Linked DNA regions of Homo sapiens. The protein of the gene in region 1 purifies or fractionates together with the protein of each later gene. This does not show direct contact. Each region holds a gene or a part of one and is shown in the gene's direction. Other genes may lie near its edges.

Evidence for each region.
Region 2: the proteins of APTX (region 1) and CTSH purify together in Homo sapiens (affinity purification with mass spectrometry; one large-scale study listed by BioGRID and IntAct). This does not show direct contact.
Region 3: the proteins of APTX (region 1) and CSTA purify together in Homo sapiens (affinity purification with mass spectrometry; one large-scale study listed by BioGRID and IntAct). This does not show direct contact.
Region 4: the proteins of APTX (region 1) and A2ML1 purify together in Homo sapiens (affinity purification with mass spectrometry; one large-scale study listed by BioGRID and IntAct). This does not show direct contact.
Region 5: the proteins of APTX (region 1) and ARG1 purify together in Homo sapiens (affinity purification with mass spectrometry; one large-scale study listed by BioGRID and IntAct). This does not show direct contact.
Region 6: the proteins of APTX (region 1) and SMTNL2 purify together in Homo sapiens (affinity purification with mass spectrometry; one large-scale study listed by BioGRID and IntAct). This does not show direct contact.
Region 7: the proteins of APTX (region 1) and SERPINB12 purify together in Homo sapiens (affinity purification with mass spectrometry; one large-scale study listed by BioGRID and IntAct). This does not show direct contact.

What each region holds. Positions count from the first base shown.
Region 1 is NC_000009.12:32,984,629-32,988,128, reverse strand, and holds part of APTX (aprataxin), read left to right. Parts: coding exon 1-46; intron 47-282; coding exon 283-585; intron 586-2,098; coding exon 2,099-2,158; intron 2,159-3,271; coding exon 3,272-3,498; intron 3,499-3,500. UniProt on the Homo sapiens protein: DNA-binding protein involved in single-strand DNA break repair, double-strand DNA break repair and base excision repair.
Region 2 is NC_000015.10:78,931,547-78,935,046, reverse strand, and holds part of CTSH (pro-cathepsin H isoform a preproprotein), read left to right. Parts: coding exon 1-69; intron 70-2,588; coding exon 2,589-2,675; intron 2,676-3,005; exon of another isoform or gene 3,006-3,450; coding exon of another isoform or gene 3,451-3,500. UniProt on the Homo sapiens protein: Important for the overall degradation of proteins in lysosomes.
Region 3 is NC_000003.12:122,331,748-122,335,247, forward strand, and holds part of CSTA (cystatin-A), read left to right. Parts: intron 1-3,500. UniProt on the Homo sapiens protein: This is an intracellular thiol proteinase inhibitor. Has an important role in desmosome-mediated cell-cell adhesion in the lower levels of the epidermis.
Region 4 is NC_000012.12:8,853,621-8,857,120, forward strand, and holds part of A2ML1 (alpha-2-macroglobulin-like protein 1 isoform 1 precursor), read left to right. Parts: intron 1-507; coding exon 508-629; intron 630-1,159; coding exon 1,160-1,211; intron 1,212-1,888; coding exon 1,889-1,972; intron 1,973-3,500. UniProt on the Homo sapiens protein: Is able to inhibit all four classes of proteinases by a unique 'trapping' mechanism. This protein has a peptide stretch, called the 'bait region' which contains specific cleavage sites for different proteinases.
Region 5 is NC_000006.12:131,579,726-131,583,225, forward strand, and holds part of ARG1 (arginase-1), read left to right. Parts: intron 1-1,493; coding exon 1,494-1,653; intron 1,654-2,895; coding exon 2,896-2,990; intron 2,991-3,334; coding exon 3,335-3,439; intron 3,440-3,500. UniProt on the Homo sapiens protein: Key element of the urea cycle converting L-arginine to urea and L-ornithine, which is further metabolized into metabolites proline and polyamides that drive collagen synthesis and bioenergetic pathways critical for cell proliferation, respectively; the urea cycle takes place primarily in the liver and, to a lesser extent, in the kidneys.
Region 6 is NC_000017.11:4,583,180-4,587,328, forward strand, and holds the start of SMTNL2 (smoothelin-like protein 2), read left to right. Parts: upstream 1-1,349; 5' UTR 1,350-1,426; coding exon 1,427-1,825; intron 1,826-4,149.
Region 7 is NC_000018.10:63,555,869-63,559,368, forward strand, and holds part of SERPINB12 (serpin B12), read left to right. Parts: intron 1-273; coding exon of another isoform or gene 274-291; coding exon 292-459; intron 460-2,483; coding exon 2,484-2,618; intron 2,619-3,500. UniProt on the Homo sapiens protein: Inhibits trypsin and plasmin, but not thrombin, coagulation factor Xa, or urokinase-type plasminogen activator. May play a role in cell differentiation.

The sequences.
Region 1 (3,500 bases):
ACAGTTGAAAGCAGAGTGTAACAAGGGATATGTCAAGGTAAAGCAGGTAGGTGTATTTATAACTTGGAATTTTATACTCGATGATTTTCTTATGCTGTTGACTTTAGAGTGTCTGTGCCAGCCAGTGAAGGCTTCTCTGTCATGTATGGAAGTGATGGAGTAATATAGGTGAACATAAGGCAAGGTGCTTGGCATATAGTAAGTGGTTAACATAGCAGTGGCTATCTTACTGTAGGTGCTGTTGCTATTATTATAATTATTTTCTGATTGTTTATTCCATAGGTAGGAGTCAATCCCACCAGCATTGACTCAGTCGTAATTGGGAAGGACCAAGAGGTGAAGCTGCAGCCTGGCCAGGTTCTCCACATGGTGAATGAACTTTATCCATATATTGTAGAGTTTGAGGAAGAGGCAAAGAACCCTGGCCTGGAAACACACAGGAAGAGAAAGAGATCAGGCAACAGTGATTCTATAGAAAGGGATGCTGCTCAGGAAGCTGAGGCTGGGACAGGGCTGGAACCTGGGAGCAACTCTGGCCAATGCTCTGTGCCCCTAAAGAAGGGAAAAGATGCACCTATCAAAAAGGTGAGGGTAGTGTGATTGGTAGATGATGTGGAGAAGAAATGAAATATAATGACTGCTTAATTGTTTTGTACACTTTAAAGTTCAGAAATGCGTGAGGGGTTATTAACCATGATGAAAGAGTCACTTGTTTGTGGCGTGAAAATCATTTGGATGAATGTTCCTTTATGTGCTTTTTTCTTAAATTCCTGAGGTAAGCCACCTGAAGGTACAACAATAATGGCAGTGTGTACTTAACATTGAACAACTAAAGTGGATCAGTTGTTTATGCATCTATAGAAGGTTTTCATAGATCATGTAATTCATATGCTGATGTCAAAGTGGAGAATTGGTCAGGCTGTAGCTGCAGTGAGAGAGGGCAAAGAAGGTATGACTCATACTCTGGCATTTCTCGCCTTCATTTAGAACAGCCAGCTGTGAATATAGGAAGGCTGGCTGGGTGCAGTGGTTCACGCCTGTAATCTCAGCGCTTTGGGAGGCCGAGGTGGGCAGATCACTTGAGGGTCAGGAGTTTGAGACCTGCCTGGCAAACATTGTGAAACTCCATGTCTACTAAAAATACAAAAATTAGCTGGGCCTGGTGGTACACACATGCTTGTAATCCCAGCTACTCGGGAGGCTGAGGCGGGAGGATTGCTTGAACCTGGAAGGCGGAGGTTGCAGTGAGCTGAGATTGCACCACTGCACTCCAGCCTGGGCGACAGAGCGAGACTCCATCTCAAAAAACAACAACAATAATAAAAAACAGCTGGGTGTGCTGGCTCACGCCTGTAATCCCAGCACTTTGGGAGGCCGAGATGGGCAGATCACCTGAGGTCAGGAGTTCGAGACCAGCCTGACCAACATGGCAAAACCTAATCTCTACTAAAAATACAAAATTAGCTGGGCGTGGTGGTGCATGCCTATAATCCCAGCAACTCCAGAGGCTGGGCAGGAGCATCGCTTGAACCCGGGAGGCAGAGGTTGCAGTGAGCCGAGATCACGCCATTGTACTCCAGCCTGGGCAACAAGAGCGAAACCCCATCTCAAAAAAAAAAAGAAAGAATATAGGGTCGGGTGTGGTGGCTCACGCCTGTAATCCCAGCACTTGGGGAGGTGGAGGCCAGTGGATCACCTGAGGTGAGGAGTTCAAGACCAGCATGGCCAACCTGGTGAAACTCCGTCTCTACTAAAAAATACAAAAGTTAGCTGGGCGTGGTGGTGGGCACCTGTAATCCCAGCTACTTGGGAGGCTGAGGCAGGAGAATCACTTCGGAGGTTGCAGTGATCACGCCGCTGCACTCCAGCTTGGGTGAGACAGAGTGAGACTTTGTCTCAAAAAAAAAGAGAATATAGGAAGGCAATGGAGTGAAGCAGAGTCAAGTGAATCTTGTTTAATTCTCAAAAACTAAGCTTATTTCCAAGTTTAGTTGTGCTATCACACAGTATTAACTGTTGCCAAATTTAATTATTGGCATTTGTAATTTACATTGCTTGTTTTTTTTTTTTTTTGTTTTTTTTTTTGTTTTTTTTTTAGGAATCCCTGGGCCACTGGAGTCAAGGCTTGAAGATTTCTATGCAGGACCCCAAAATGCAGGTCAGAATACAATTTTGGAATTTCAGTACATTTCATGTTGTAAATGACCACTCCACAGAGGTCTTAATTACAAATGAAATCAAAGGATATCAGTCTTTCTGAATGAGATTCATTTTATTGGGCTGTTCTGTGAGAACAAGAGGCTTTTCACATTGGCAATAAAGTAGCAGCTGTCATTGTTTGGAGAGAAAGCTGAGTTCTTCAAATGAATATCCCCTCTGCCTTGTGCCTTTTAAACTTCTGGGTACTTTAAGGGAAGTTGCATTAACCTTAGTATGGTTCCTTTCAGGGGAGCATCAGAGATAATACACTGTGACAGTAGTACTGTGCTGCCCTGGCATTAACAGTCAGACATCCCTGTAATCCCAGCACTTTGGGAGGCCGAGACGGGAGGATCACCTGAGGTCAGGAGTTCGAGATCAGCCTGACCAACATGGAGAAACCCTGTCTCTACTAAAAATACAAAAAATTAGCTGGGCATGGTGGTGCATGCCTGTAATCTCAGCTACTCGAGAGGCTGAGGCAGGAGAATCACTTGAATCCGGGAGGTGGAGGTTGCGGTGAGCTGAGATTGCACCATTGTACTCCAGCCTGGGCAACAAGAGCGAAACTCCATCTCAAAAAAAAAAAAAAAAAAAAAAAAACAGGCATCATCCTTGAGGAGCCTTTGAGTCCCACTTCAATTATATTCCTTGTTGACAAGGGGCAGGTCTAATAGGGCTCACTGGAACCCACGTGTACGTGTCACACAGTCTGCCATGTTGGAGTGGAGAAGGATGCTTTTGAATTTATGTCTACAGAGATTTTACATCACATTCTTGGGAACTATTTTGTACTGTGCATCTTCTGTGTATTCTGTGTAGTGTGGTGGTTGAAAACAGACTCTGGAGTCAACCACATCTGAGTTGGAATCCTAGATTTCCCTCTTAGGAACTATGACTTGTGCAAGACACTCAACCTGTCTGAATTTCAGTGCTCTCCTCTCTCAAAACTGGGCTATTAAAACCATTTGCACAAGACTGTGGGAATTAAGTGACTTAGTGAATATAACAACCAGGCACACAGAAGATTCTTAGTAGATGTCTGTTTCCTTCTCTTGTATCCCTCTGCTAGGTTTACAAAGATGAGCAGGTGGTGGTGATAAAGGATAAATACCCAAAGGCCCGTTACCATTGGCTGGTCTTACCGTGGACCTCCATTTCCAGTCTGAAGGCTGTGGCCAGGGAACACCTTGAACTCCTTAAGCATATGCACACTGTGGGGGAAAAGGTGATTGTAGATTTTGCTGGGTCCAGCAAACTCCGCTTCCGATTGGGCTACCACGCCATTCCGAGTATGAGGT
Region 2 (3,500 bases), on another chromosome or scaffold:
ACTGGTCCCTACCCACCTTCCGTGGACTGGCGGAAAAAAGGAAATTTTGTCTCACCTGTGAAAAATCAGGTATGCCTGGCAATCTCCATCCTCTCCCTGCAAAACGGCCACACTCCCAGACAATACACCAGGAAGAACAACTCAAAAGGTCCACAAAACCACCACAAGCACATCCCTGCCTCTGTTTCCTCTCGGCATCTCTCCAGCCCTCTTCCTTTGAGGGGCCAGGGAGGTCAGCACTTCTCTAGGCTGCTCTGGAGGATGCAAAAGTTCCTCTTTATTGGGCTAAAGTTTACTCCCTTCCTTCCCCACGCCCCAGATTTTCCCATTGGTCCCAGGTCTCTCCTACAGAGCCATCCAAAACGTTATGTTCCCTGTGCCCATCTGGACACCAGAACCCCATGCATCTCCTCTTCCCGCCTCCATCTTCTCCGAGCCACCAGGGTCCAGCCCCTGCCCTGGCTGGCCGCCTCCCTCTGGTTAGTCCATGTGTCATGCATCAGCAAGCTTCTCATGGCAGGGGCTGGCCTCCGTGGCCCTTGCTGTGGGGCACAGAGGGCTTGGCAAGGTGAGAGGCCCTGCCTTCCTCCATGGGGGAGCAGTCTGGGGGCATCTCAGCACAGGCCCTGTCCCAGAGAGTCTGGACCCTGCCCCCGCTGTTCTCCCGGCCTGCTGCGGCCCCTCCCCTAGCAGGGAACCTGCCGTGGCCTTCTTCAGAAGGATGCCGACCTCTGGACTCTAGGAAATATGAGGTGAAGGTTTCCTTCCTGGAAACTCCTGGCTTTCCATCGAAATTCTCCATGAGAAATGTTTTTTCACTTTCCAAAAAGCCATCCATGCAGCACAGCTTTAAAGCCTCCCGGGCTTGCAGTGTTCCTGGAGCCTGCCAAGTGCTGGATGTTTAACTAGCATCAGGAGCCAAAGCAAACCTCCCCTTGCAGCAGGAGGTGGAGTAGAAGCCTGCCTTTGCCCCGTGACATTTTTAGACCCTCTGAGAACCACATGACAATTCAGAGCAACACGTAACCTAAACCTGCCCACCACTTGGACAGGTGGGAAAGAGAGGCCCACCAAGAATTTTCCAAGTCCTCCTGTTAACTGATCCTGGGCCATCAGGCAGGACGCAGCCGGCTGGGCTAAGGGAGCGGAATGAGGTGCTTCCTGACGCAGATGTGTGCCGTCTCTTACTGTGGCCGCTGTGTGGGGATAGAGACGGACAGCAGCCACAGCGTCCATCAGCTCAGCACCCTCCTTGAGAGTTTCTCACTTTACAGAGGGAGAGCCTGAGAGGGAGGGTGGTTTGCCTGAGGTCCAAGGTAAGTAAGTGACAAAGGGGACTCAAAACCAGGCCCCTGCCCCAAGTCGAGCACCCAAGGGTCAGCCGAGCTCCGCCTCCTTCAGCAGTGAGCTTAGTCTCCCCCGAAGTGGCCACGTCTGCCTCGTTGACTGTCTCATGGACCCTCTCACCAGGCCGTCCCTCCCTCCCCCAGCTGAGAGAGATATGTGAAGGGAAGAGATTGGGTGAGGCCAGTGTCAACCTAGGGTGATGACCTGGGAGGCAGGTAGGGGACTTAAGAGACATTTCAGAAGTAGAAGCTGGAAGACTGAACCAGCAAGGTGAGGAAACAGAGATGAACCTGAGAGAAATCCTTACAGCAGCCACCAGCATTGTGCCCACGGGGGTGACTGCCTGACCAGCAGAATCTGACTTAACCCTGCTAGCGCCCTGCAAGCAGGAACCCTCGCCATTCCCACTTTACAAGCAATGAAGCCAAGGCTTCGAGAGGGGAAGTGACTTGCCCAGGTCACCCACCTGGTGTGTGGCAGAGCTGGGATGTGAACCAGGCAGGCAGGCTGCAGCCCCCCACACCTAATCCTCATGTTATTCTGGAGGTGTTGTGAATAAGGGGGCTAGGCAGCGGCAATGAACTGTTAGAAGGTGGGGAAATGGGTGGATGGGGCGGGTCCCCCAGAGTCTGGGGTGTCAGGGGTGTCTGGGTGGGGTTGTCTGGCAGTTAGTTGGATGTCTGAGCCTAAGTGGAGGTCAGCACTGGGCTAGGGTTTGGGGAGCTGTTAGTTTAACAGGACTGGGCAGAAGAGACTGGAGGTGGAAAGGTGAGAGAAGGTTCTAAAAACAGAACTTTGGGGCATCCTTCTGCAGGGAACCAGTAGGGAAAAGAGGAGCCAGTGAAGATCGAGAAGGAAGAGAGCCAGAAGACTGCAGAATGGGGTGGGGGACTCCAGGCCCTGGCAGAATGGTGGGGATTGGCCACCAAGAGGTGGTGATTGGGAGTCCACAGGCACTGGTCAGAGGCCACCTGCTGCTCCTGCTCCTTTGCAAGCCTCTCAGGACTTGCGAGGCTCAGAATGAATGGATCTGGAACAGGGCTTGCGAGCCTCAGAATGAATGGATCTGGAACAGGGCCTGCGAGGCTCAGAATGAATGGATCTGGAACAGGGCTTGGTAAACTGCCAAGGCACCTGGGGACTCGGGAGCTCTGGCAGGGTCAGCAGAGGAAGGCAGAAGGCAGGGCTGTCTCACGGCGTCCCCATCACTGATGTCCTCTGCTCTCCCCTGGCCTTTCCAGGGTGCCTGCGGCAGTTGCTGGACTTTCTCCACCACTGGGGCCCTGGAGTCTGCGATCGCCATCGCAACCGGAAAGATGCTGTCCTTGGTAAGAAATCAGCCACAGGCGACCCCCTGCGGAGGACACCCCATCCTGATGTGGGCCAGGCCTGGGCCTTTGGTTTCCCTGGAGCATTGGCTAAGGGTGCTGTTTCAGGTGGACCCAGATGCCCCAGCCTTGTGGACATCTGGCATGAGAATCTCAATTGATGCTTTTCCCGGGAAGGATCTGAGTTTATTAAGGAACCGGCCCAAGGGCTCATTCCTAGATGGATCTGGGTGGTCCTTAGCTTGACAGCCTGGAGCCTTCCCGGCGGAGGGGTTCAGAAAGGCGGAGCCTGCCTGGTGGGTAGCCAACTAGGAGCTACACCCTTCCCAGCAGCCTCAGTTGTCTTCATGAGGGAAGAGCCGGGACCTATGCATCCATCCCCTCGCCCACAAGAGACGGATGATGCCCCTGAAGGAACTATCCTAGCCCCTGCCTCTGTGGAGAAAGGAGGGACAGTGCACAGCCGGCCTGGTGATGCCATGAGGACCCTGGGTTGTGGACAGGTGGGGGTAGGGTCTCTGGCTGGGCCTGTTTCCCCCATCCTATACACCGCTGTGGGACCCCACACTCTGCATCGTATGGGCACACCTACGGGGCAGGGGTTTGGACCCAACAGCCCTTGCCCCCTCTCACCTTCCCTGGCTGCCCCTGCTTACTGAGCCCCTCCCGACATGTGCCAGCTGCTGGGCTGGCACTGCAGGACATACAGCAACTGTCCCTGCCCTTGGGGAGTTTATAATTTGGTCACCTTGACACAGCACTGACGGGGCCTCAGATGTGGCTCAGCCAGGGAGGCTTAGCGCCTCACGCCAAAGCCTTGACGGC
Region 3 (3,500 bases), on another chromosome or scaffold:
CCCACAAATGTAAATCTCTCTTCAGTTGTTCATTGCCTCCCACCCCCATGGTCCCTCCAGCAGGATGTCTCAGTTCCTACTCTTCTTAGGCCAGCTGTCCCCAACCTTTTTGGTACCTTTGTGGAAGGCAATTTTTCCACAGATGGGGTGGAGGGGATAGTTTTGGGATGAAGCTGTTCCACCTCAGATCATCAGGCATTATTTTCTCATAAGGAGCACGCAACCTTGATCCTTTGCATGCAGTTCACAATAGGGTTCCCACTCCTATGAGAATCTAATGCTGCCGCTAATCTGACAGGAGGCGGAGCTCAGGCCATAATGCTCACTGGCCCACTGCTCCCCTCCTGCTGTGCAGCCCGATTCCTAACAGGCCATGGATGGGTACTGGTCTGCAGCCCAGGGGTTGGGAACACCTGTCTTAGGAGATTGCAGATCTCTGGTAAGAAAATGCCCCAGCTGACCCTATCTCTTGCTGGATCTCATTCCTCCCTAGACTCTATTCTCCTCTCTTCAGCCAGTCCTTCCTCTCTTAGCCAGGTGACTTCATTTCTTGCATCCTCAATGCCTTGTCCCATACTTCCTTCTTCCTTCAAAACATACTTAGACAATAAATGTCCACAAGTCACATCTTACTGGCCCTACTGTCCTTTCATGTTACTATTCAAACTCTCCTTCCTTACTCTCTAAATCTCCCCCAAATGTAATTCATCCACTTTGCCATCAATATCTTTCTATCTATTTTCTATTAAATTAGGCACAGTCCTATTGTTTCTGTAGAATGACTACAGATTAGGGGAAAAGCCTGAGTGTTGGGTGCCTCATGGCTCAAATCCTCAGATCTCAGAGAATAAACACCTCACCAAGATTCATGCTCAGTAGCAATGAGAAATGCTTGAAGAACTCTGGGTTAAATGCATTATACCAGGTGCTTCTCCCTGGTAGCCTCCTCCCCGGCTGGAGACCAAGCGACAAACCTCCACTGTATTCCTTGAGCTCCCGTCACCATCACGCGTGGCAGACTGAGAAAGGTGAAGGCCAACTGCATTCAGCAGGAGATGTGTCCGTTCACCGCCAGTCTCCCACCACCGTTCCCAGCTGGCCTGCATCCTCCTAGTGCCCATCCTGGGGAGTCTTTCAGCACCAAGCTACCTTCTGAGACTTAAGTTTCACTGACAAGCTCCCCTACTCTGCCCCTTTCCCTGCTCCTCAGCTCAAATCTCATCACTCAGGTCCATGTCATCTAACATTAAACCATGCAAATCTATTTTACTGGGAAGAGGGAGGGAGGCTGCAAGTTACAAGTAGAGTGAACCAGAAATCAAGGTCCACAGTCTGACAGGTGCCAGAACACTTCAAGAAACAAACCAGATCTTTTAAATCCCCTCTCTCATGGAAAATTCTGCATTTGTGGATTACACAGATACGATGGAAAAGTTAAAGATTTGGATATATTTCTAGGACAGATAGAAATAAAAACTTAGGGCCAGGCATGGGGGCTCACCCCTGTAATCCCAGCACTTTGGGAGACCAAGGTGGGTGGATCACCTGAGGCCAGGAGTTTGAGACCAGCCTGGCAAACATGGTGAAACTCCATCTCTCCAAAAATATAAAAAATTAGCTGGGAGTGGTGGCAGATGCCTGTAGTCCCAGCTACTCATGAGGCTGAGGCAGGAGAATTGCTTAAACCCAGGAGGGAGAGGTTGTAGTGAGCTGAGATTGTGCCACTACACTCCAGCCTAGGTGACAGAGCAAGACTCCATGAAAGAGAGAGAGAAGAAAGAAAGAAAAGAAAGAAGAAAGAAAGAAAGAAAGAAAGAAAGAAAGAAAGAAAGAAAGAAAGAAAGAAGAAAGAGAGAGAGAGGAAGGAAGGAAAAGGAAAGGAAAGGAAGGAAGGAAAAGGAAAGGAAAGGAAGAAAAAAGGAAGAAAGAAAGAAGAAAGAAAGAGAGAGAGAAAGAAAGAAAAAGAAAGAAAGAGAAAGAAAGAAAGAGAAAGAAAGAAAAGAAAAGAAAGGCTGGTTGGCTTAGGATACGTGCTTAAAAAGAAACATGACTGAAAAGCAGAAGGAACACAGATCAGATATATAAGTTATCATGCAAGGACTTTAAAATAACTATGTTGAATAATTTTTCAACTTTAAGCAGTCATGCTCAACTCATAGCCTTACATTCTCCATTCATAAAATGAGGTTTAAATGGATACTTTGGGGGTTAGTGTAGAGATTAACTCTTTCAAACTCAGCTCCTAACTTGACTGGTGCCAAGTACTGGCCATCCCTCCTTTGGAATTTTGAAAGGCTTTGGAAAGGGACCCTAAGACAATAACCTGTTTCCTTACTCTACTTCTCTGTGCATCCTTTCTCCGCTCTCCTGCCCCTAGCTCTTCCCACTTCTGGTTTGTCCTCACTATTTGTCTTCTCCCTTTCTCCACTTTGAAATTTCATTTCCATCTCAACAGAACAATCACACTTTTCCCGTCTATTCTCAAGGTTACAGGAGAACTGAGTGGTGGTCCGTGGAGTGTTTGGCCTTTCAGAAATGGTCTGAGAACTCACAGTTTGCATATGTCTACATCTTTGAAAACAGTTCTGGTACTCAAACTGAGGCATCAGTAGTAAAGGTTCAAAACATCTGCCCAGGGAGGATTGTTTGAGTCCGGGAATTCGAGGCTGCAGTGAACTATGATCACGCCACTGCACTCCAGCCTGGGTGAGGGGGAGATTCTGTCTCTTAAATTTAAAAAAACAAAAAACAAAAAAAACCTGCCCACTGATAGGAAGGACTGCCTTGGGAGAATCCTAGATGGACTGGAGGCCTGATTGAAGTTGTATGGACATGCAATGCTTTCATGAAGGGCATAAAAGCAAGTTCTCAATAAACAAGGTACATTCAACACAGAGAGTTATATCCTTTTTCCTCCAAAAGACAGAAAAGAATTGGGGTTGAAGGACAAATCCACAGACATAAAGACAACAGGAGATAGGCAAGTACCACCTCAGAAATACCAATAAAATTTTGGAAGTTGGAAAACAGATGAACAATGGAAAATGCTGAGCAGTCTAAACAGAAGCTAAGCCCATAGAGGGGAAAGTCTAAGCCAGAAGCAAGCAGATTCACACTGCAGAACGTCACAATGGCGCAGGCATGAGCAACACCAAAAAGTCGTAGCCAGGAGTAAGGTCTCAGACCAAAAGCAAGAGGACTGATCTGTATGAAGGACAGTGAGACCTCCCATAGTTCCTTCTCCCTCACTGTCCTCCACCCCGGCAGAAGACGAGCTTTACACTTAGCAGGAACTGAGTCAAGAGCTCATAGTAGACTCTTGCATATCAGGCCCAGCTGAGAGTGGGAATGAAGCACTGTACAGAAAGTTGATGGGCTCAGTAAAAGTTTACATATTGAATTTGGGACTGTCTCCCTTCTCATGCTGGGTTCGGGAATGCTGACATTTAAACCCAACCCATATCCCTCCATGGTAGACAGAATGATGGCCCTCCAAAGAT
Region 4 (3,500 bases), on another chromosome or scaffold:
GCTAGACTGAAGGACACAGTTCTTGACCTCAGCTTTTGGCTAGGGGCCTCACTCAGTATCTCATCACATGAATCTCTCTGCTGGGCTGCCTCATCACACAACAGCTGTCTTCCCCAGAGCAAGCAGTTTGAGAAAAGGGGTGCACCCAAGATGGAAGCTGCAGTCTTTTTTGTAACCTAATCCCAGAAGAGTCATTACTTTCACCCTGTTCTCTTTAACAGAAGCGAGTCACTCAATCCAGCTCACACTCAATGGATGTAAATATCAGGATGCAGGGATCTCTGAGGGCCCTTAGAGGTTACCTACCACACTGGACTAGCCTCTCTGGCATCACCTGGGAGCTTGTTAGAAATGCAGAATATGGGCCCCACCCCAGGTCTATGGCAGCAGAGTTTGCACTGTTGCAAGATCCCCATTAAAGTTTCAGAAATGCTGATCCAAATGGGAATGGACCTCACTGGTACCTCTGGCAATAGGGCTAATGGCTTCCCTTCTTCTTTCTCTCAGGTCACATTAACTTTACTATTAGTACAAAGATTCTGGACAGCAATGAACCATGTGGGGGCCAGAAGGGGTTTGTTCCCCAAAAGGGCCGAAGTGACACGCTCATCAAGCCAGTTCTCGTCAAAGTGAGTTTTCTTCAGAGGTAGAGACAGCAACCAACCGAGGGATGCTCAGCATCTCGTCTTGCTGTGAGTTAGTCTCTCACAGCAACCATACTCCAGTCCAACCAGGCAGCTTCAACTTTCTCCTTCCCTGGCCCCTTGAACATTTGCCTAATCCACACCCACGGCCTATGAAAGCACCTAAAACCCGGCACCTCATAGGCACTCAACAAATGTTAGTTTACCTAATTAAAATGTCTGTCTTCATCAATAGCTGCCTTTTTCGTCCCATCATGAAGCCCATTGTCAATCTTGCCTCTTAGAAGTTGCCTAAATGTGTCTTTGGCTCTAGCACTTGCCCAGAAAGAACTTTACAGAAAGGGCCCATCCTTGGGTTGACGCAGAGTTCTTCTGAGCTTCAGTGAGAAGCTCTTGTCTGCAGTTCTGAGGGAAGCCCTGGGGGCACAGCGAGGGGCCTCCCTTCCCTTTCCTTTAGTGCCATCCCTCCTGATGTTCATCTTTGTTGTTTTTATCTGTGTCTCTCTTCATCGCAGCCTGAGGGAGTCCTGGTGGAGAAGACACACAGCTCATTGCTGTGCCCAAAAGGTGGGTGGACTCAGAGCAGGATTGGTGGTGAGAATTCCCTTAGAGGGCAGGAGATTTTCTTTTCATTTTTTTTTTTTTTTTGAGACGGAGTCTCGCTCCGTCGTCCAGGCTGGATTGCAGTGGCACGATTTCAGCTCATTGCAACCTCTGCCTCCCGGGTTCAAGTGATTCTACTGCCTTAGTCTCCTGAGTAGCTGGGACTACAGGTACATGCCACCATGCCTGGCTAATTTTTGTATTTTTAGTAGAGATGGGGTTTCACCATATTGGCCAGGCTGGTCTCGAACTCCTGACCTTGTGATCCTCCTGCCTTGGCCTCCCAAAGTGCTGGGATTACAGGCGTGAGCCACTGCACCCGGCAGCAGGAGATTTTCATAGGCAAAAGGAGGAATGCATAGTACCAGAAGGAATAGGAGAGTCTGAAGTGCCATTCCTCATGGGGCTGATTAACTGGGAGGCAGGAGGAAGAAGAGAAAGTGTGCAGCACGATGATGACTCTCTGTGGAATTTATTTTCAGCAAGATCACTATGAATAGTACCCAGTGCTTTCTGCATCCCAGAGAAAGCACCGAGTACAGAAATCCCTGGATTATAGAAAGTTCTTCTAAAATTTTGTCTTGAGAACCCCTGCCATTCCCCATCTTCTATTGTGTCACCTTTTTTTCTGCATCTCACAGGAAAGGTGGCATCTGAATCTGTCTCCCTGGAGCTCCCAGTGGACATTGTTCCTGACTCGACCAAGGCTTATGTTACGGTTCTGGGTAAGCAGTTAGAGATTCTTGACTCAGAAAGGAAAAGGCGAATGGAGGCTGCAAAGGTGTGGAGTGGGGCGGGACATACGGACCTATCCGGAGAGTGTAACTAATAACAAGTGATGAAGGAAAAAGAGCGTATTTTATATAGGAGGGAAATACAGTGTAGGCAACAGTACAGATGGGATTAGACTTGTACTCTAGTTAAAAATGGAAGAGAGTCAGGGTAGGAAGAAGGTAAGGTCGCTGATGCTTGATTTTAGGTTTAGACAGTCTATAAATTGGGTGAAGGGAAAACAGAATATTTGCAGCAACCATTTTCAAAACTGAGGAATTTGGGTATAGTTTAGGGAAGATACAACCATATTTACAATAGGCAGCACACTTACTGTTTGGGGCAAGGGAGGAAGTGGGTTGAAAAGCATGAACGTAGAAATCATATCTAACCTGTCATTTAATAGCCATGTGACCCTGAACAAGTTAGTGAACAGTTCTGGGCCTTCTTTCCTCTTCTGTAAAACAGTGATAATAACCTACCTCTCAGACTGGTGTAAAGATTAAATGCAATATAAAGTCCCCAGCACAATATCTAGCATGTAGTAGGAGCCCTATGAATGTTAGGCTCTTTCTTTACTCCCTCACCCTCTATTGAGATCCTTTGCAGTCACAGTGTCTCTGTTTTGTCTATTTTATTCGTAAGTCTGACATAGCACTTATCTTATTGTATTAGAGTTCACTGTCTATATCTGTCTTCCACACTGTGTTGGGGGCTCCTGAAGAGGAAGGGCCACATCTTTTTCTTTTGTGTTCCTAGTACAGTTCCTGCAACATAGTTGACATTCAGGACACATTTATAGATTGAATTGAGCTTGTTGGCTACAATGCAGATGTTAATGAGTCACTTATGTCAGGTTCACTGGCTTGGGAAGTATATGAAGGGGTCAGTGACAACTTGGAAAAGAGTGTCAGAACTGTGTTTTAGAGAAACTTGGTGATTTGGAGGGTGAGGAACGTACATGCAGTGGTAGAGGAGCTTAAGAGATTGATCCTAAGTGTTATAAGTTTTGTCACATCACTCATCAGCTCAGTGACATGTCTTCTTAAAAGCCCTGAACTCTCTTAGATAGCTTATGTGCCTCTCCGTGTCCCCTAGCACCTCGTACATATCCAGTATGACATTGTAGTACTGTATTAAAATTGTTTATAATGAATAAAAATTGTAATGTGTTGTAATGGTTTGCTCCTCTGTGAGTTTTTTTGAGGGTAGAGACCGAGTTTGATTTACTGTGGTCTTCCCAGGACACACAGTAGGTACTTTTTTTTTTTTTTTTTTTGTATTTTTAGTAGAGACAGGGTTTGTCCATGTTGGTCAGGCTGGTCTCGAACTCCTGACCTCAGGTGATCCACCCTCCTCGGCCTCCCATACTGCTGGAATTACAGGCGTGAGCCACCACGCCCGGCCCATAGTAGGTACTTATTAAATGATAGCTAATACGTGTTTGTTCAGTGAATGATGATAACTCTTAGAGGGTCCCTT
Region 5 (3,500 bases), on another chromosome or scaffold:
TGGTAATTGTACTTCTCTAGCAACCATTTCAACCAGAATTGAAAATCTGGCACATTTCTTTCATGGCATCTTTTTTTTCCTTGTACATGATGACTTTGTTTAACGTGTGTGTGTGTGTGTATGTGTGTGTGTGAGAGAGAGAGAGAGAGAGACAGATGTCTATGTTGTGTTCTCACTCTACAGTGCAAATTTCCTTGTTGCTTCATGGGATGTGCATAAGCATCATAAGCATCAGTTTTTTAATTGCTGCATGATTTTTCATCAAGGGGTTACATCGCTATATACGTACATATTGCGGCATATTCAGGTTGCATTATAATTTTCACCATTACAAATAATGTGGCAAAGACCATTTTTGTGCATGAGCCTCTTTAAATATTTACTCCCAAGGCCTAGGATAATTTTACCAGAAAGGCCTGATTAGATCTAAAAGTAGAAACACTTCTATGGCTCTTGAGCAGTCAATGACTTCAGGTCTCCTTGGCTTCCTCTTCTAAAGCCAAACTGTCACCAAGGCCTCTGTATCAAAACTGCAATTGGGAAACTGAGGCTCGCTTTCTTTGTTAAGTGGAAATTTTAGGAATGGCACATGGCAAAAGACAAGAAACCTAAAGGGAAAACAAACGTCCACTGAATAATCCATACCTGAACGTTAAGGCATTATTGCTTCCACTTCGAGAATCTAAAAGCTCATGATTCTCTGAATGATACTTAAACATTCACAAATGGGAGAATACAGGCATTGTATAGTACTAGCTTGGTGCAAAAGTAATTGCAGTTTTTAAATGGCAAAACCGCAATACTTTTGCACCAACCTAATAAATCCTAACTTTTAACTTCTGTGCAAGATATCATTTATGTCTTCCATTCCAGCAAAATGTCTGGAGCTTGAAGTATTTGGGATGAACTTTGTTCCTGGTTGAGTGGGTAACTAGATGCATTGAATAGAATGAGTGAACACACGCCATACGCTGGCTGAAGAACTTGAGTAAGAACATGTAAGAACTTCTGAGTGATGCTCTCAAATTATAAAAGCTGGATTTTAAGAAAAATTGAAAGACTTTGTCATAATTCACTTGAGAGAATTAAGTATTTACCAAGAGAGATGAGTGTACAGAAAATGATCCAAATTTAACTCTGAGAATTGAACAGTGTCTCATGCTAAGGAATTTCTTGTGTGGCTAGTATTTTTATACTCATTTATTTTTTTGGCTACGCTCTAATCGTGGTTTTCTTACAAGGTGGATTTTGGGAAAAAAAATCACAGTTTTTTTAGTAATGCAATCGATGTAAATATAACTAGTTAGTGAGCATTAAGTGTAAGTTATGCTTTCTCTATTGTTTTAACTAATTGGCATCTCCAATTCAGAACCTATCAGAAATATCAGACACTGTGACTCAAAGGAAAACCAAGTGGGAGCATTGAGTGAATAATATGATGTATGTAGTGACACTGCAAACCTGATGTTCACACAAAATTTTTTCCCCAAAAGTTTGGCAATTGGAAGCATCTCTGGCCATGCCAGGGTCCACCCTGATCTTGGAGTCATCTGGGTGGATGCTCACACTGATATCAACACTCCACTGACAACCACAAGTGGAAACTTGCATGGACAACCTGTATCTTTCCTCCTGAAGGAACTAAAAGGAAAGGTAAAAGACTGGTTGGTACTCTAGTGCAATAGAATACTTTTTAGTAGACATTCAGGAGGTGGAAGGGAAATGAGAAACTCCATGTTATCTTATTCTTGGTGTAATCTCAAATCATTTTCTCTGCAGCCAATAAGCAAAGGGTTGGTTGATAAAAGGCAGTGAGGCTCTCTATCTCTGCCTTGCAAACTGACTTAATATATATTTTCTCTGCTAATTCTTAAACTATCCTTTTAGTAGGTGGGGCAGAGAGTAATCATTTATAAACAGGTCAGTGGAGGTTCAGAGGTTAACCAACTTGCCCAAGATATATGCCAAGCCTATAGTGAAGCAAGGGCTAGCACCAGGTCTCCTCATTCCTTCCTCTTTCCACTACATGCCACACAGTTCTGCATTCTTACTGAGTAGTCCTTCTATATCATAGAGGCTTTTCAAAAAAGAAATTTTAAAATTTCAGATATAATGGTTTATGAACTAATGTATTTACTGGGAGAAGCACCTATCTAAATCATAAGAGAAAGAACTATCTCCCTGCTCCCTAGAAACTCCTTTTCTAAAAGATGGAAAATAAAATGGCAGATTAAGATTTAATATTACAGCTTATAACTTTGTTGATATGCCATAGTTTGTTGATATGCCATAGTATATCAATAAAAAGTTTTTATTGATACAATTATAATATTTGGTCCTTATGATGATACAAGAGGTTAAAACCTCCTTATGTTAAATGCTCAGAAATAATGTCTTTTGAACTAATGACCAAGGGATGGGTTTATAAACTTGCAAAGTATCTGCCTAGTACATGGGAAAAACTAAACGTCCTGGAGGACAAAGCAGATATCATCATATTATCACATTAAGAATAACCAAAGGACAGGCCACAAATTTCCCTCAGCTGCTCTAGGCCATCCTCTGGATTAAGGACTTACTGAGAAAGGGAAGTAAAGAAGGAAGCTACCAAAGTAATGGGAGCACAATCGTTTCTTTATAGAGGAGCCCTGGGAAAGAAGGGCCCAGCAGGACTGGGGCACAAAGTAGGTAAATGCCAACTGGTTCAAGGCAAAGTCAAAGCAATCAAGGGGAGGCACACATCCTCTTCTTAATTGTGTATTATTTTTACATGATTTCTTCTGTATTTATATTCTAAATATAAGATATACGCAATCCAATATGTGTCTTTACCTTTGAATGTAGGATTTGTTCAAGAGAATCATACATAACCAAGTGAAAACATTGTAATTTTAGATTCCCGATGTGCCAGGATTCTCCTGGGTGACTCCCTGTATATCTGCCAAGGATATTGTGTATATTGGCTTGAGAGACGTGGACCCTGGGGAACAGTAAGCTTATTCCTTGATGTGATTTGCCTCCATTTTTGTCCCTTTGTGTGCTAGATATGCTTTACTGACCAACTCTATGAGAGAAAATTAAACATCAAGACACACACACACACACATGCCCACACACATATATTTATATACATGTACATACATATGTATGTATCCAGGCAATTAAATCTCAATTGACTTGCTGTTAAAAATAAATACAAATAAAACTATATTGAGTTAGGTTCATAGAACCTAAATGTTTTATATATTTTACTATATTTATATTTCCCTTAAAAGGAGACAGGCGGGCACAGTCAGCCTTATTAATTATAATTATCTTAATTTCTCTTTTATAGCTACATTTTGAAAACTCTAGGCATTAAATACTTTTCAATGACTGAAGTGGACAGACTAGGAATTGGCAAGGTGATGGAAGAAACACTCAGCTATCTACTAGGAAGGTAGGATTCTTTTGTGTGTGCACACATGTGTGTGCAACAGAAAAGGTTGCTACTGACAACC
Region 6 (4,149 bases), on another chromosome or scaffold:
GGAATGCACACACATGCTCACACATATATGCAGCATGCACACCTTTTGGCATTTGCCTTTTTCATGAAATAATTGCTGGAAGGCTCCTTGGATTAGGTAACCCAGCGTTCCTTCCTGTCCCCTTGGGGCTGGGGGCGGGGGAGAGAACCAGCATTTAGCATCTGTCAGGCTGCTCCAGTTCCTTTGGGGCAATGATGGCCAGTCCAGGAGGGTTTGTGGGCTCCAAACAACCTTGGGAGCAGAACATGATATGAACAAGCCTTTCAGACTTCTCCTTCCTGCAGGTCAGCTGGCTATGCATGCCCAGCCTCTGGGCCTCTTTCAGGCAGGCCAGGCTTGGGAAAAAGAAGGCCAATTAGGAAAGGTTTTTTGCACAAAGGAGGATATGTTCTCATTTTTATTTTAAATCAGCTTTATGATATAGCGAAAACTTAGAGTTAGCTTTGCCCATCATCCCATCGTCCTAAAGCAACACCTGTTTCCCTTCTTCCCTTTTCTGGTGATGGTTTGGGGTGTGCATTTGGAAGGGGGAACTATCTGGGTTCAGCCATAAAGAGCATTGAGAAGGAATAGGGGTAAGACCCCTGGCCTACGGGTAGAGGCCAGTGACTGAGACTCTCATTGCGGGAGGGGGCGATTAGTCGCAAAGCCGCCCATTCCAGGATTTGGAGATGCAGCTCCAGCACACCCTTCTTTCTCTGTCTGCCCTTAGCCTCTCCAGGATCTCCTAACGGAGGCCCCTTGGTGGGTCGGGAGCCTCTACCGACCACTAGTGGGAAGGGCACGAAGATCTTGCTATACAGAGTAGGACTGGGAGGGGACAGCGCGTAGTCGCAGAGTCAGGGAGGGGACCTCACCACCTGTCTCCTCCCTGAGGTCTTAGAACAGATACAAGAAATTCCAGGCGAAGGTCCCACAGGTGAGCGTGTGCCTGCGAGAGCCGTGGCCGCTGCATAGGGAGGGCCCCGCGGAGTGGGGCGGCAGCTGTGGGAGCTGTAGGTGTCCCCATTAGCCCGGGAGTCTCCGCCCCCGGAGGAACCTGGGCCTTGCGGGTGAGAGTCCCGAGCGAACGCGTCAGCCCGGGTGTGCTCTCTACGGTCCAGGGGGGCCAGGGCCTTCTTCGGGTGGGCCCGCCGCCCCTCCCGCAGGCCGCACGCCGCTCCTCCGGGGTCGCAGGGCTCAGTTAAGAGCCGGGGAGGGGAGAGGCTGGGCGAGCTCTCCCTCCGCACCGTCCCGCTGGGCTCCAGGGCAGGGGGGTGTCCCGGAGTCGTCCCCGGCTCCGCCCCCGAGGCCCCGCCCCGCGCCCGCCTCCCCGGCAGCCCCTCGAGCGAAGCCAGCCACGGACGGCCAGTCGCGGCCCGGAGCTGCGGAGCTCGGATCTTCTCCCCCGTCTGGCCCGCTCTCGACCCGCGCGCTCTGCTGGGCCATGGAGCCGGCCCCCGACGCCCAGGAGGCGCGCACTGTGCGCGAGGCGCTGGGCCGCTACGAGGCGGCGCTGGAGGGTGCGGTGCGCGCGCTGCACGAGGACATGCGGGGGCTGCAGCGCGGCGTGGAGCGGCGAGTGGCAGAGGCGATGCGCCTGGCCGGCCCCCTGGCGCGCACGGTGGCCGACCTGCAGCGGGACAACCAGCGGCTGCAGGCGCAGCTCGAGCGCCTGACGCGCCAGGTGGAGGCGCTGGGCTTGGCCAGCGGGATGTCCCCGGTGCCCGGCACTCCCGGCACGCCCAGCCCCCCGCCCGCGCCCGGGGTTCCCGACCGCGCGCCCCGCCTGGGCAGCGCACGCTTCGCCAGCCACGCCACCTTCTCGCTGTCCGGCCGCGGCCAGGTGAGCCCGGGGGAGCGCGTGCGCTGGCGCCAGGGAGTGGGGCTCCGAACCGGGTGCCGCCCCTTCGCCCCGACTGCCTGCCTCTGCTCGCGTCTGCGGGGTTGGGGCCTTCACCGGCCGCTCGGACTAGGTGATGGGGGTCCTGCCGCCCCTCCGGAGTTGGAGAGGGCGGGGGGAGGACCGCTGAGCCTGCCAGCTGCACCTGTCTTGGTCCTCCGCCCTGTTTTAGAGCCAGGCTCTGTTTGCTCAGAGTCCTGTCTCCCTCTCTCCTCTGTCCCATGACATCAACGGCTTGGGCGCCGAAGTCCGGCCCCTGACTGTTCAGCACTGCCTGGAGCCACGCGGGGCATGTTGGAATGGTCGACACCCCTGCCTGACCCCCACCCTCCATTCACGCTCCCCTGCGTTGCCGCTTCACTGAGGCCTGACGGCTCTGGTTATTGATTAACTCAGATTGAGAACTCAGGCCCCTGGATGGGTGGGGAGGGGGGTCGAGGGGGACGCGATCAGCAGCGGCTTTTGGGAACTCTCCATCGCAGGGGGTAAATCCCTTACCGTGAAGGGAGAGAGGTGGAAACCCGCCTTGAGCCGTGTCTAGATTCCTCGGGTCAGTGACTAGCCAGAGGCCCACACCACGTGGGGATAGGGCGGAGGCCGACGTGGACCAGTCACTACCTTGCGCATGGGCCACCCAGAGCAGTTAGAATGTGTCCATGGTGTGTGCAGTGGCCCTTGGGTGGGATTTTCCATCCTGATCAGGCATGTGCTCTCGGGTTGGGTTCCCAGGATCTGGGGCTGTGTAGCCTGCACCTGCTCCCTCCTTGGTGCAATCCCTGGGGCTCTCAGATTTCCCGCTGTGGGCTGGGCTGGACCCTAGGGGGCCTGGAGGAGGGTATCAGATTGGGCCTTCCCCCTGGAGGTCCCATCCAGGGTGGGAGATGGCCCCAGACCAAGTTTGGGCAGCCAGAGATGTTTTGCTCCAAACACAGTAGTTAGCCCCTTCTCAGTGGGTATCTCAGCAAGGCTTTGTGCTGGGGGCCTGGGGCTTGCTGCTACTGGTGCAGATGAGGGTGGGGTGGGGGCTGTGCAGGAAGCCTCAGAAAGGCTGAAAGTACTCACTGGTGAGTGCAGCCTCGAGGTATGCGAGTGGAGTGGGCAGTGGCGAATGCCCCTAGTGTGCTGGGCAGAGGAGTTGGGCTTTGCCCGGCCTGTAAGAAGTTCTTAAACATGTCATGGTAGCAGAACCCGGGAGTGTCCCAGTGCTCCGTGTGAAATGTCTGGAAATGTGGATACACTTAAGTCTGTCTTATGAACATGACACTCTACGTGACCATGGTCTAAAATCACCACTGTGAGCTCACACGTGCCTCATCAACTGTGTCATCGGTTGTTTCTGAGGTTTTATTTGAACATGCATTTGCTATTTGTCTGCTCATAGCAGCAGCTGTCCAAATTAAAAAAAAAAATGTCAGGTTCACATATACATGTAGATGTGTGTGTACACACAAAGAGAGAGAGAGAGAGAGAGAGAGAGAGGGAATTCTCTCCAGTCGTGATTTTTGTCAATGGAGATTAGCCATTGTTCACTGGCACCAAGCTAGTCCACTAGGTTAGGAGTTGGTGGATGAAGCTCAGGATGAGGGTCTTCTTTGTGTCTGGCAAGCCCTCTTCGGGGTGGATGGAAGGTGGAGGGTGGCTGGAGGTGGGTAACTTGATTGTGATGGTCCAAGGAGAAAGGAAAGGTCTGAGCTGGGCCGTGGGCCTTGGTGTGTAGAGGGGCTGCCTTGGACAGGGTTTCAGAGGGGGAATGAGCAGATGGGGTAGTCTCAGAGGGGAGCTCTGACTTGGGGGACTGCTGGGTCACAGATCTGGGGTGAGATGCTGGGTTCCACCCGGGTCGTGCTGAACATGAGGGGACTATGGGAACTCCAGGTGAAGCTGTCCCAGAGCAGGTGGATTCATGGATCTGGTGCTCCACACAGTGAGCAAGCCTGGAGATTAGGGAGCTCTCTGGGCAGAAGCAAAGAGTCTGAAGGAATTAAAAACCAGACCGGGGAACTGCCAGGGAGTGAGGAGGACCTGAGTGCACTCTCAGCAAACCAGAGAAGGAGCCCTCCTGGAAGAAGAGGCTGGGGTCAGTGAAGATGCGTCGGCCTGTTGGGGAGTGAAGATGGAGACCCAGGCACCCAGGGGCATGAGCAGCAAGGGTAGCTGAGCACTGTGGGTGGAACATGGCTATGGTCCCCAGTTGGGTTAGAGGCTCTGCACCCCTTGAGCCCTGGCTCCCGGGGCCTGAGGCAGCTGCCGCTGGGCTGACCCCCGAA
Region 7 (3,500 bases), on another chromosome or scaffold:
AAACTCCTGCTATTTAAACCACTCAGTCTGTGGTAATTTCTTATGGCAGCCCCAGGAAACGAATTCACACTACTAAATGAAAATAGATCTCTGTCTATCAATATCAACACCAATATTTATATACAGGGATGATAATGACCTTAGTTTTCCAGTTCTTAATAGCATACTGAATAATTGTGCATGATTGTATTTCAGGTATGTAAAATAAAATTGTTTGTTCACTTATTTTCTTCCAATCACCATTTTCTCTTTCTCCTTTTTTTTTGGTTTTAGATCGTTATAAGTTTTACAATGGACTCTCTTGTTACAGCAAACACCAAATTTTGCTTTGATCTTTTTCAAGAGATAGGCAAAGATGATCGTCATAAAAACATATTTTTCTCTCCCCTGAGCCTCTCAGCTGCCCTTGGTATGGTACGCTTGGGTGCTAGAAGTGACAGTGCACATCAGATTGATGAGGTACGTGTCCACTAGGGTGCTACACAGGGTCCTAAACTCTGGGTCCACACTCAAAGTCAGACCCTAATCCCACTTAGGCAAGCCAAGGGGCTTATTGCACCCTGGGCTTGGTCAGAACCCATCCCTGTCTCTGAGTCTTTATTTGTATTTTCTCCATCTTACTTCCTCTTCGATCCTACCATTCTTAAAGTCTCACTTAAACTTGTACCTTCTTTAGGGTGCTCCTCAACTTCATGTCTGGCAGCTTTTCTCATTCATCTCTATCTTTATCTCTGTATGCATGTCTGTCACTCTTTTACTCTATGATTGCTAATACCAATATTGCTAGCGATTTTTAGTATGTGTATATGTCTTCTGTCTCACTCATTTCATTAAATAAATATTCATTAAGTACCATATATGGTTCCAGTGGCTAGAGAGCTTGGTGTCCTCCTGGACTCTTTCTCTCTCACTTTATACCACATTTGTTAGAAAATTCTGTTGGCTTTTCTTTTGAAAGATATCCATAATCCAGGCACTTCTCCCAGTCTCCTTGAGGTCTGAACCACAACCATCTTTTCTCACCTGGATACTGCAGCAACTTCCTGATGGGCTTTCCTGCTCTCACTGGCAATCTATCCTTTGCACAGCAGTCCAAGAGACCCTTTTAAAACCTGAGCCAGATTCTATTTCTCATCTGTTCAAAAACCTGGATTTCTTATTTCACTCATGATAGCAGTTCAAGTCCTTACAATGGCCCACAAGGATCTGGAGATCTGAATCCCAGATAAGCCCTGTGACTCCATCTCTCACTTTCATCCCTCCTCACTGTACCTGTCACATTGGCCTCCTGGCTTCCTTGGGTAAGTCATGCCCATCCTATCTTGGGGCCTTTGCTCTCGGTCCCTTTGCCTGATGGCTCTTTCCCCTGGTAACTGACCTCAGCTCACTTTCTTCTTCAAGACTTTGATCAGTGTTTATCTCCTATACGGGGCCTACTTTGACCTCCTAATCTAGTGCTGCATCCTGACCTCCAGACCATAAGGGATACTTTTGTAGGCACCTAATAAACATTTCTAGAATAAATAAATGAAGGTAATAAGAACAAATCCCCAAATAAACTACAAGTTCCCATGGTTGGCCTTATACTTCCTTGGATGTAGCACATAGTGCGGGGGTTATGCACAACTCAGGCTGTTTCCCCTGAATATGGAGCAGTAGAATTTATGGATTAAGACAGAATGTGTTTCTGGGGTCATTCTGCTTTATTCATCTACTAAGATTTGGTGTATTATTTTCTTATTCCATTAGCAAAACTTAGCTTTAGAGTGTGGTTTGCATCTTGCAGGGCAGAATTCAGATGTTCTTTCTTAGGCAGTTGAGGGCACCTGCTGACCAAATGGGTCTGAGTAGTGCAGGATATGACGCCTGTCTCCTACCTTTCTACCAGGCTCTGGATAACTTGTCTTTTGCTGTCCTCACTCCCTTGATTCATGTGAAACTCTAGATCAGCACTGTCTGACACAAACATAATGAGAACCACATAGTAATTTAAAATTTTTTAGTAACTGTATTGCAAAAGTAAAAAGAAACAGGTGGGACTAATTTTAATAATAATTTTTTAACCTAGTATATGCAAAATATCATATCCACATATCATCAATATAAGAATTTTAATGAGCTATTTTATTTATTTATTTTTTTATACTATATTCAAGATCTGGTGTGTATTTTGCACTTACAGTCAATTCAGATTGGGTATCTATGAAATGCTCCATAGTTACATTTAGCTTGTGGATACCTCTATGTTCTTTTAGTTTGGTTATATTTATTCATAAATGCTCTCCCAGGGTAGCGGTTGGTTCTTCTCCTCGATTCCACCTCCCAACCCAAGTACAGAAGCACCCACTTTCCTTTAAACTGTTGTTGATTGTTTTGTTTGACTATGTAATCATTGCCATTGTCTCATTATGAAATGTTTCTGAAGTTATTCAGGCTTCCCTCTGTTCATATTATCTGAAAGACCCCATCCCGTTATCATGCAGGTACTACACTTCAACGAATTTTCCCAGAATGAAAGCAAAGAACCTGACCCTTGTCTGAAAAGCAACAAACAAAAAGTGCTGGCTGACAGCTCTCTGGAGGGGCAGAAAAAAACGACAGAGCCTCTGGATCAGCAGGTGAACCGCCACCGTAGAAAACTCTTGCCTTTCTTTTTTACAAACTGCTTATTCTGGCTGTAGGATATTTGGTGATAGTTGCTTATCCCCAAATATTAGACTCTGGATACCATCAACAGCAATAACCTCATGTGATCTGTGATTCCTGAGTATGGATCTCAGATGTCCTTGGCTATCAGCTAGTTTCCTAAAGAGTAGGATCTGGTGTCTTCTGCTTATGATAAAGAAGCCTAGATCATCACTCTGTCCCTCATCTGCTTCTATAGGCCACAGGGCCCCAACACAGAGTATGGTCAAAGATAAAGGTGGTAAGGGGTAGGGTCAGCTGTGGAATTCTTACTGTCTCCCTCTATCTCTGCTTGTTCCATTTCGTGCTGAAATCTGCACTGACAGACAAAACTTTTATTGGTTGCCTCATGCCAGGAGGAGGAAAGATATTATCCAGGGTATGCATCCCCCTACTTTAGAAAGTTTAAGAGGAGGGTGGATAGATGATTGTCTTTCTTTCTTTCCTTCCTTCTTTCTTTCTTTCTTTCTTTCTTTCTTTCTTTCTTTCTTTCTTTCTTTCTTTCTCTCCTTCTTCTCTCCTTCTCTCCTTCTCTCTTTCTCTCTTTCTTTCTTTCTTTTTGTTTTTTCTGAGATGGAGTTTCGTTGTGTTGCCAGGCTGGAGTGCAGTGGCGCAATCTCAGCTCACTTCAACCTCCGCCTCCTGGGTTCAAGCAATTTTCCTGCCTCAGCCTCCAGAGTAGCTGGGATTACAGGCATGAGCCACCATGCCTGGCCTCTTTGAAATGTAAAGAAAATCAGAGTGTGTCAGTCTGAAATATAGTGAGCGTTGCTGAGTTCCCCAGATGTATTTTTCCTGGATGATCTTGATATAGA